3 separate regions of the Homo sapiens genome follow, and regions 1 and 2 are each linked to region 3. Evidence: fine-mapped expression QTL. A gene starts in region 3. Each other region holds a variant in brackets. All regions are shown on one strand. Distances are between the middles of the regions. Region 1 overlaps EPB41L1 (erythrocyte membrane protein band 4.1 like 1). Region 2 overlaps EPB41L1 (erythrocyte membrane protein band 4.1 like 1). Region 3 holds the start of AAR2 (AAR2 splicing factor).

Region 1 (2,757 bases), 45 kb before region 3:
CTGCCTTGGTCTCCATGTATCTCTAGTGTTTAGCACTGGACCCGTCACAGAGTAAGGGCTCAATCACCCTTATTGATTCAGTGAATGAACAGGCCAAAGTCGCAGATGCCTGAGAAGAGTTCAGAAAGAATGACTCACGTCTGTAATCCCAGCATTTTGGGAGGCTGAGGTGGGAGGACTGCTTGAGCCCAGGAGTTGGAGACCAGCCTAGGCAACATAGTGAGACTCATTCTCTACAAAAAATTAGCTGGTGTGGTGTCGTCTGACTGTAGTCCTGGCTACTTGGGAGGCTGAGGCAGGAGGATCTCTTGAGCCCAGGAATTCAAGGTTACAGTGAGCTATGATTGCGCCACTGTACTCCACCCTGGGCAAATGATCGAGACCCTGTGTCTCAAAAAAACATTAAACAAATAAAATAAAAAACACAAAGAATGGGCTAGTGGCGAGAGTGAGCTCAGGCCCTGCCTCTAACCTGCCCTTTTGGTTTTCCAGTATGAGCAATTTGAGAGCACAATTGGCTTTAAGCTCCCAAACCACCGGTCAGCCAAGAGACTGTGGAAGGTCTGCATCGAGCATCATACATTCTTCCGGTGAGCCTGACCTTGGATGGGGTAATGGGGATGGGGCAGAGGCCATGTGTATGGAGGGGAGCAGGGGGAGGAGTTAGTGAGAACTCTAGGAAAGTCCTCCACCCTTTCCCCAAGTCCCTCCCTTCCTGGACCACTTTGAATTGTTGTAGTTGGTGGAGTAGTGGGATGAAAGGCCAGCTGTGGTCTAACCTTGGGCCTGGCAGTGCAGGTCTGATTCCTCCTCCTCCCCTGCATCCCTCTGCTGCAGGCTGGTGTCCCCTGAGCCCCCACCCAAGGGCTTCCTGGTGATGGGCTCCAAGTTCCGGTACAGTGGGAGGACCCAGGCACAGACTCGCCAGGCCAGCGCCCTCATTGACCGGCCTGCACCCTTCTTTGAGCGTTCTTCCAGCAAACGGTACACCATGTCCCGCAGCCTTGATGGAGGTATGGCCCAAATTGGAGGGCTGGGCGGGGAATGGTCTTCAGAGGGAACTGGGGGAGTGGGCATGCTGGGTTCTGCAGAATGAGCAGGAAAATGGTAGATGCATCCCAAGTTCATCTGCACCAGGCTGGCCCCTCAAGACCAGTGCTGTCCCTGGGCAG[CT/C]CTTGGTGGCTTAGTCCCAACCTAGAGCTCACTCCCACTTGAGATGTGATACTACCACTCTCTGGATTCCCCACAACTTCCCTGAGTCGTGGTCTTTTGGGGTCCCAGGTTTAGCCATATGGTTTGGGCCACCTACCCAAGAAGCTTAGCAATCCACCAGTCTAACCTGTGGTCTAACCTTGGGCCTGGCAGTGCAGGTCTGATTCACCCTCCTCCCCTGCATCCCTCTGCTGCAGGCTGGTGTCCCTTACACTGGTCATCATCATACTAGGAGAATAGTGTCTTATGACTGCAGTGTGGAGCTGATGATGCCTTATCTGCTGGGAGGCCAGGGCATCGTTCTTGGTCATTCTTTTGGTTCTACTAGGTTCTGGGCTGATTGACAATCTAACCACATGGCACTCTCCACTGTCCCCATTTCTATTGGATTGATGGGTGCCCTTAACATCAATGAAAACTGGCCCTATATAGTCCTGTAGCAAGCAGATAGGGCTTAAAATGTGGTGCACAAACCACGTTTCATCAGAGTCGCCTGTGAGATTGTTAAGCAAGCACGAAAATTCCCAGGTTTTGCCCCAGACCTACTAAATCAGCACCCTTCAGGGCCCAAGTCTCTCCCCAGGATGTACACACTAGAGTTTGTAGGTGATGTTCGGAAGTCACATGGGTCACTGGGGAGATTCAGAATTATGCAGATCTGAGTTCAAATCTCGGCTTGACAGTCACCGTGGGCTGTTCTCTGGACACTGGAAGTGGTTCATAAATATCTGAATGAATGGATGGGTGACCTTAAGCAACTTATTTAACTCCCTGAGCCTATTTCCTCTTCTACAAAATACATAGTACCTACTTTGCTGTGTTCTAGGGAAAACTAAATGAGATCATGCCTAGAAAATATTCTGTGGCACATAGTAGCACCTTAAGAAATTGTACCCATCATTATTGTTTTTAGGTTTGTAGAGAGTGGCTTAAAGGTGGGAAGTGGGGGCTGGGCATGGTGACTCATGCCTGTAATCCCAGCACTTTGGGAGGCCAAGGCGGGCAGATCACCTGAGGTCAGGAGTTCGAGACCAGCCTGACCAATATGATGAAACCCCATCTCTACTAAAAATACAAAAATTAGCCGGGCGTGGTGGCATGCACCTGTAATCTCAGCTACTCGGGAGGCTGAAACAGGAGAATTGCTTGGACCTGGGAGGCAGAGGTTGCAGTGAGCTCACACCATTGCATTCCAGCCTGGGCAACAAAGCGAGACTCCATCTCAAAAAAAATAAAAAAAATAAAAAATAAAAAGGCCAGGCACAGTGGCTCACACCTATAATCCCAACACTTCGGGAAGCCAAGGCAGGTGGATCACGAGGTCCAGAGATCAAGACCATCCTGGCCAACATGGTGAAACCTCGTCTCTACTAAAAATACAAAGATTAGCCAGGCATGGTGGCAGGCGCCTGTAGTCCCAGCTACTCGGGAGCTCAGGCAGGAGAATCACTTGAACCCGGGAGATGAAGGTTGCAGTGAGCCAAGATTGCACCGCCACTGTACTCTAGCCTGGTGACAGAGCAAGACTCCGTCTCAAAAAAAAAA
Region 2 (2,757 bases), 60 kb before region 3:
CCAAGATCACTGAGGGCATCAGCAGTGGAGTTAGGACCCGGGGCGGGCGGCGGTGGGGCAGGTCTCTGGCCTTTCTCCTCTCCTTTAACTCAGTCCACAGCTCCCAGACTCCTGCTAGATCCAGTGACAGACAAAAAGAAGGAGACCAGATGGATGCTGTGATGAGTCATGTGCTGCTCTGGGGAGACAGGGCAGCTCTGGCCACTGGCTTTGGTTTCATGGGATGCTCCTGCCTCAGAGGATGCCTATGGCAGCAGTAGCCTGCAGGGAAGATGGGGACCCCTCACACAAGGCCACCCATTATGCATGGAAGCCCTGGCTCTCCTCCTGTACACACCAGCCATGGACCCTAGTTGCCCTGTGGGTCTCAGACGGTAGCGACTTTCATTCTGGGGTCTGTCTTGGCCCCAGATGCCTCTATATTGCTTCTTACTTATATGAAAGGCCATGGCTTAAAACTCACTGAGCAAACTATTCCCTTGCTTGGTCCTGCAGAGCCTAGACATGGAGGAGAAGGACTACAGTGAGGCCGATGGCCTTTCGGAGAGGACCACGCCCAGCAAGGCCCAGAAATCGCCCCAGAAGATTGCCAAGAAATACAAGAGTGCCATCTGCCGGGTCACTCTGCTTGATGCCTCGGAGTATGAGTGTGAGGTGGAGGTAGGGGAGCACTGAGTGCCATATGTCCCGTCCCCGGTCAGCCAGCCTCAGGTCCAGGGCAGGCTCCTGTGTGTACCCAGCTTGGGCCAAACCAGAGGAGTCCTGGACCAGTCACAGTGTCCAGAGAGATGACCTGGCTCGGAGCTCCTTTGTACAGATGGTGGCACCAAAGCCTGGAGAGAGTGGTTATGATTGCAAATAGAATTAGACGAGGTACAGGGCTGGCACCAGGGGAAGATTTTGCAGGGTGACTATACCTTGGCAAGGATGCCACCATGTAAGGGCTGATCTACAAACAGTAGACCTGGGAACTGGGCTCCCCTATTCACCCAGGAGAGACTGACATTTAAATTAGAATCATTTTTATATACTGGGTGGAGAGAGGGCTCCTCCCTTCCTAGTGAATGTCCCTGTCCAGGGCACCATCTCAAGTCTCCAGGACAAACTAGTCACCTGAGGGTTCTATGGCAAGCCCATCACCAC[G/A]TCACAGGGAGGCGGCCCATTGGGAAGATGTCACCCAGGCCATGTAGAAACCCTGTGGTATGGCCCTGCCCCATGGTGGTGACACAGCAGATGCCTCCTTCTGGGTTTGGCCCTCCTGGCCTCACATTTAGGTCTCCTTTTCCTATATAGGTTCTGACTCCCGCCCTAATTCTGAGCTCTCGCTCGCCCCCTCTGTGAGCCCTTAGAGGTTCTATCCCTGCCGAGGCAGCATTCGTGGCCCTTCTCCGCATGTGTGAAAGGGCTCAGAGGGTGTCCTTGCTACTGAGATATATAGGAGCTGCCCCCTTTTCTCTCCCATGCACTGATTTTAGGGATGTGGCTTACTCCTGAGCCCTGGGAGGCTGAGTCCCTCTTCTCTACAGGGTTTTGATTTGTTTTGTTTTTATGTACATGTATTTTTTCTTTTTTTTCTTTTTTTTTTTTTTTTGTTGAGACAGAGTCTTGCTCTGTTGCCCAGGCTGGTGTGCAGTGGTGCGATCTCAGCTCCCTGCAACCTCAATCTCCCAGGTTCAAGCAGTTCTCCTGCTTCAGCCTCCTGAATAGCTGGGATTACAGGTGCCCGCCACCACACCCGGCTAATTTTTGTATTTTTAGTAGAGACAGGGTTTCACCATGTTGCCCAGGCTGGTCTCAAACTCCTGGCCTCAAGTGATCTGCCTGCCTTGGCCTCCCAAAGTGCTGGGATTACAGGCATGAGCCACTGCACCCGACTGTGTATGTATTTTGTCTATAGAAAGATTTCACCTTCCCTGCTCCTGGGACAAAGGAAAGGGCTGTCTTCTATGTCCTCTCTCCTACCTTGATGGGCCCCAAGATGCCATTTCTGCCTGTCCTAGAAGTGCACAAAGCATTTGACTGAGGCTAGGTCCTCTCTCTCTGATGATCTCCAGGTTCAGGAATTCCTTGTCAGGCTTGGTCCCGAGGGCCCAGCCAGACCTTACAGGGGTCTCACTCCCTCTCTAGAGTCCCTGCCTCTTTGGGTGGTGACTGCCTCCTGTTCCCCTGCCATGTGATCCCCTTATTGGTGCTCATCTTTACCCCTGTGGGTTTGGAGTGCCCAGTCGGGTTCTCGGCTTCGTCATTCTGAATGGTGGTTCAGAGAGGCCCAAGCCTAGCTCTACAGGAGTGGGAGGAACCTACCTGGCCCTAACAATGGTACTTCCAGCAGAAGCTGATGGAGGCCCCATGAGCCTCTGTGAAACCTCACTGGCTGTGGGGAAGGGAGTGGTGGGCTAGCCTGGGCTGCCCTGGATTTCACTCAGGGAAGGGAGGGTCACACTGTGACCCTGAGCCCCAAGCCCTCCCCTTCTCCCCCTGCCCGCTTCTGTCATATTCCAGGGGCGGCTTCTCTTCCTCTCACACCCAAAGCTTAGGACTTGCTTTTCTGCCCCTTCGGTCTAAGTTAGCCTCCTTCTCCTAATCACTAAAAAGGAAGGAGAAAGCCGTCACTTCCTATGCCTTCCACTTCAGCTTCTCCCCAAGCAAGCTCAAAGTCCAGAAACCACCACCAGAACTTGGAAGAAGGCCATCAAGGAGCTGGCCATTGTTGTCACCCCCAGGATCCCTTAGGACTCAGAGGGCAGAGCCAAGTGG
Region 3 (2,745 bases):
GGAGTGGGGAGGGGTGGAGAGGGAGCTGAGCTTCTTCATGCAGGAGATGAAACTTGACAGGACAGGCTGAGATTGGTAAGCATGACTGTGACTGATGGAGGCTGTCTCTGGTTAATCCTGCAGCAGCTCATTGTGATTAACCATGACTGCAGGGCCCGGTCTAGTCTGCAACCCACTAAGAGATAAATTTTGACCGAGACAGATTGGCGTGTCCAGCTGTCACTGAGGAAATGTGACAGACAAGCTAAGGAGCAGCAGCACAAGAGATAAGAACAGACAGCCCTTGGTTTGCATTCTAGCTCTGCCATTCTCTGGCTGTGTAACATCTCTTTGAACCTCAGTTTTCTCTTCTGCAAATTGGGAATACACATACCTTACAAGGGTTAGTGCAAGGATTATAAATACCCAAGTGGGCCGGGCACGGTGGCTCATGCCTGTAATCCCAGCACTTTGAGAGGCCAAGGTGGGCAGATCACCTGAGGTCAGGAGTTCGAAACCAGCCTGGCCAACAAGATGAAACCCCGTCTCTACTAAAAATACAAAAATTAGCCAGGCACGGTGGTGGGCGCCTGTAATCCCAGCTACTTGGGAGGCTGAGGCAGGAGAATGGCTTGAACCCAGGAGGTGGAGGTTGCAGTGAGCCGAGATAGCGCCATTGCACTCCAGCCTGGGTGACAGAGTGAGATTGCGTCTCAAAAAAAGAAATACCCAAGTGGCCTGCCCTAAAATCACATAAGCCAATTCTTGGCAATAAATCACTTAATATAGATCTCCTACTGGCTCTGTATCTTTGGTGGAACCCTGATTAATAGTGCAGGGTTAGACCCACAAATAGTTATTTATTAATACCAAATTATCATCATTATTAATTAAATGCATAATATATGTACTCAGCTGAGCTTTTGTGCCTGGCTTTGTGCTCGGTTCCAGGGAAACAGTGAGGAACAAGACAGGCAGATTCCTTCCCTAGTGCGTTGATAGCCTGACTGAGATGTTAGGACTTGGCCTGCAGGAAGGACACGGGGTGATAATGGCCAGAGGGACTGAGGTGGCGACCGCTGCTGCTGCAGCAGCGGAGGCTGACGCTGGTTCTCTCTGGGCTGGTGGCTGGGTTTCTGAGGCTCTCCCCGAGGGCTGAGTGTGACTGGAAGCTGAGACACTGTGACCGGGATAGAGACTGGCTGACAAAGACAGTGACCGAGCGCCTGACTGGCTACTTCTGAATAGTAGCCACTGGTACAAGCCTTGGCTGTGCTTTAGTGACCATGACTGCTTGAGCCCAAAGTAAGATGGCTGGTGGCTGTGTTTCTGGACGGGGATATAAAATGCATAGGTTAATGAAAGTTGTTCACAATTCAGAAGCTAAAACGAGAAACTAAGAATAACAAAAGGCAACCTTGCATCCGGCGGAACCTGCAGGCACGGGCCATTCTTCCCGCGACCCAGGGCTCTGCCGGACCGCTTCCCCCGTCGCTCCAGTCAGACGCCAAAGCTGGAGAACTTCCGGTGCGTTTCCGCTGTACCGGAACGTGGGGCGAGGCGGTGAGTGTGGCCTCCTGGCCTCTTTTTCCTTTCCTGATTCCTTGTGTATGTGTGGCTGGGCCGCCCCTCTTCTCGGCTCAGAGTCACGGAGTGCCTTGAACTAGGCCCACCTCGCCGGGGCGGCTGGTTCTCTGTTTGTGGGACGCTGGTGTCTCTGGAGGCCCTTCCTGAGAAGCCGTCGCCAGAGTTACGTCGCGGTTTTCTTAACTTTAGAGCCTGGGGGCCGGAGACCCTGATTGCACTCGACCTGGCTCTGCCCTACTCTCTGCGTGACTTCCAGTAAGGTCTTTCCCCGAACTGAGGCTTTGTTTCTCGTTTACAAAATGGATATCATACTTGTATTAAATAAATGTTTACTAAGCGTTGAATCTGTGCTAGGGATACAGCAGGACTCAAGTCTCGTGGCGATGACAGCCTTCAATCAAACATCCAAAACTGCAGTTGTGATCATTGAGACGGAAAGGTACAAGGCACCCCAGATTATATCACAGGAGACCTGACCTAGCCCCAGGGCAAGGAACCTTTACTGAGGAGGTGAATATTGAGCTGAGATCAGAAAAAAGGATTTGACAAAGTGGGGAGGGAAGAGTTTTCTATATGGAGACAGCCTCCAATTTCAGGTTCTGAAAGAGGCCGTTGTGGCTGGAACAGAGAGCTTGTGGGGGACCATTGTGTGACACAAGCTAAAGGGGTTGCCAGGAGTCAGACCGTGCAGGCTTTGTAGGTAATAGGAAGAATTCTGGTTTTTCAAGAACCATATGGGAAACCACTCAGAAGCTGACATGGGTGGTGTTGTGATTAGATTGGCATTTTGAAAAGGTTACTGCTGTTGAATGGAGAATGGGTTGAGGAGCAAGCACTCTGAGTGAGGGACGATGGTAGCTTGGATTAGGGAGGTGGTGGAGAGAAGTGGATGGATGTGACTTTAGGTGTTCCAGGACTGTGAGGAACTCACAGAGCTGTCAGTGACAGGGGCTGGTAGACTGCAGAGTTCTATGCATATTTAATAAACGTTTTCCTAGCATCTCCTCTGTGCTAGGCCCTGTGCCAGCTGCTGGAGATATAGTGAATAGAATTACAGACTGGTGGAATTAGCATGAAAGAAACGTCATTATCAAGGAGGAGCACACAGATGTCACAAGGGAAAATGGCTAATTGATGAGCTGTTATTGTAAATGGAATATCTGTTCATTCAGCAAATAT

Evidence for each region. PIP is the estimated chance that this variant, and not a neighbour inherited with it, causes the effect. A credible set is the group of variants that fine-mapping cannot tell apart.
Region 1: its variant is the best candidate, but not a certain one, in a credible set for the expression of AAR2 in whole blood (INTERVAL, PIP 0.77).
Region 2: its variant is the best candidate, but not a certain one, in a credible set for the expression of AAR2 in whole blood (INTERVAL, PIP 0.60).

What each region holds. Positions count from the first base shown.
Region 1 is chr20:36,189,785-36,192,541 of GRCh38, forward strand. EPB41L1 (erythrocyte membrane protein band 4.1 like 1) reads left to right here. Exons shown (of 22, transcript NM_012156.2): 10 at 493-590; 11 at 838-1,013. All of the region lies in intron 1 of LOC124904892 (a long non-coding RNA gene), which reads right to left. Among named protein-coding and RNA genes, the nearest start is that of EPB41L1-AS1, 35 kb to the left of the region's middle. The variant CT/C (reference allele first, on the strand shown) is at 1,173.
Region 2 is chr20:36,175,056-36,177,812 of GRCh38, forward strand. EPB41L1 (erythrocyte membrane protein band 4.1 like 1) reads left to right here. Exons shown (of 22, transcript NM_012156.2): 3 at 496-660. LOC124904892 (a long non-coding RNA gene) reads right to left here. Exons shown (of 3, transcript XR_007067571.1): 3 at 1-114. Among named protein-coding and RNA genes, the nearest start is that of EPB41L1-AS1, 21 kb to the left of the region's middle. The variant G/A (reference allele first, on the strand shown) is at 1,144.
Region 3 is chr20:36,234,962-36,237,706 of GRCh38, forward strand. It overlaps AAR2 (AAR2 splicing factor), which reads left to right and starts at 1,517. Exons shown (of 4, transcript NM_001271874.2): 1 at 1,517-1,542. LOC105372602 (a long non-coding RNA gene) reads right to left here and starts at 1,505. Exons shown (of 3, transcript XR_936695.2): 1 at 1,397-1,505.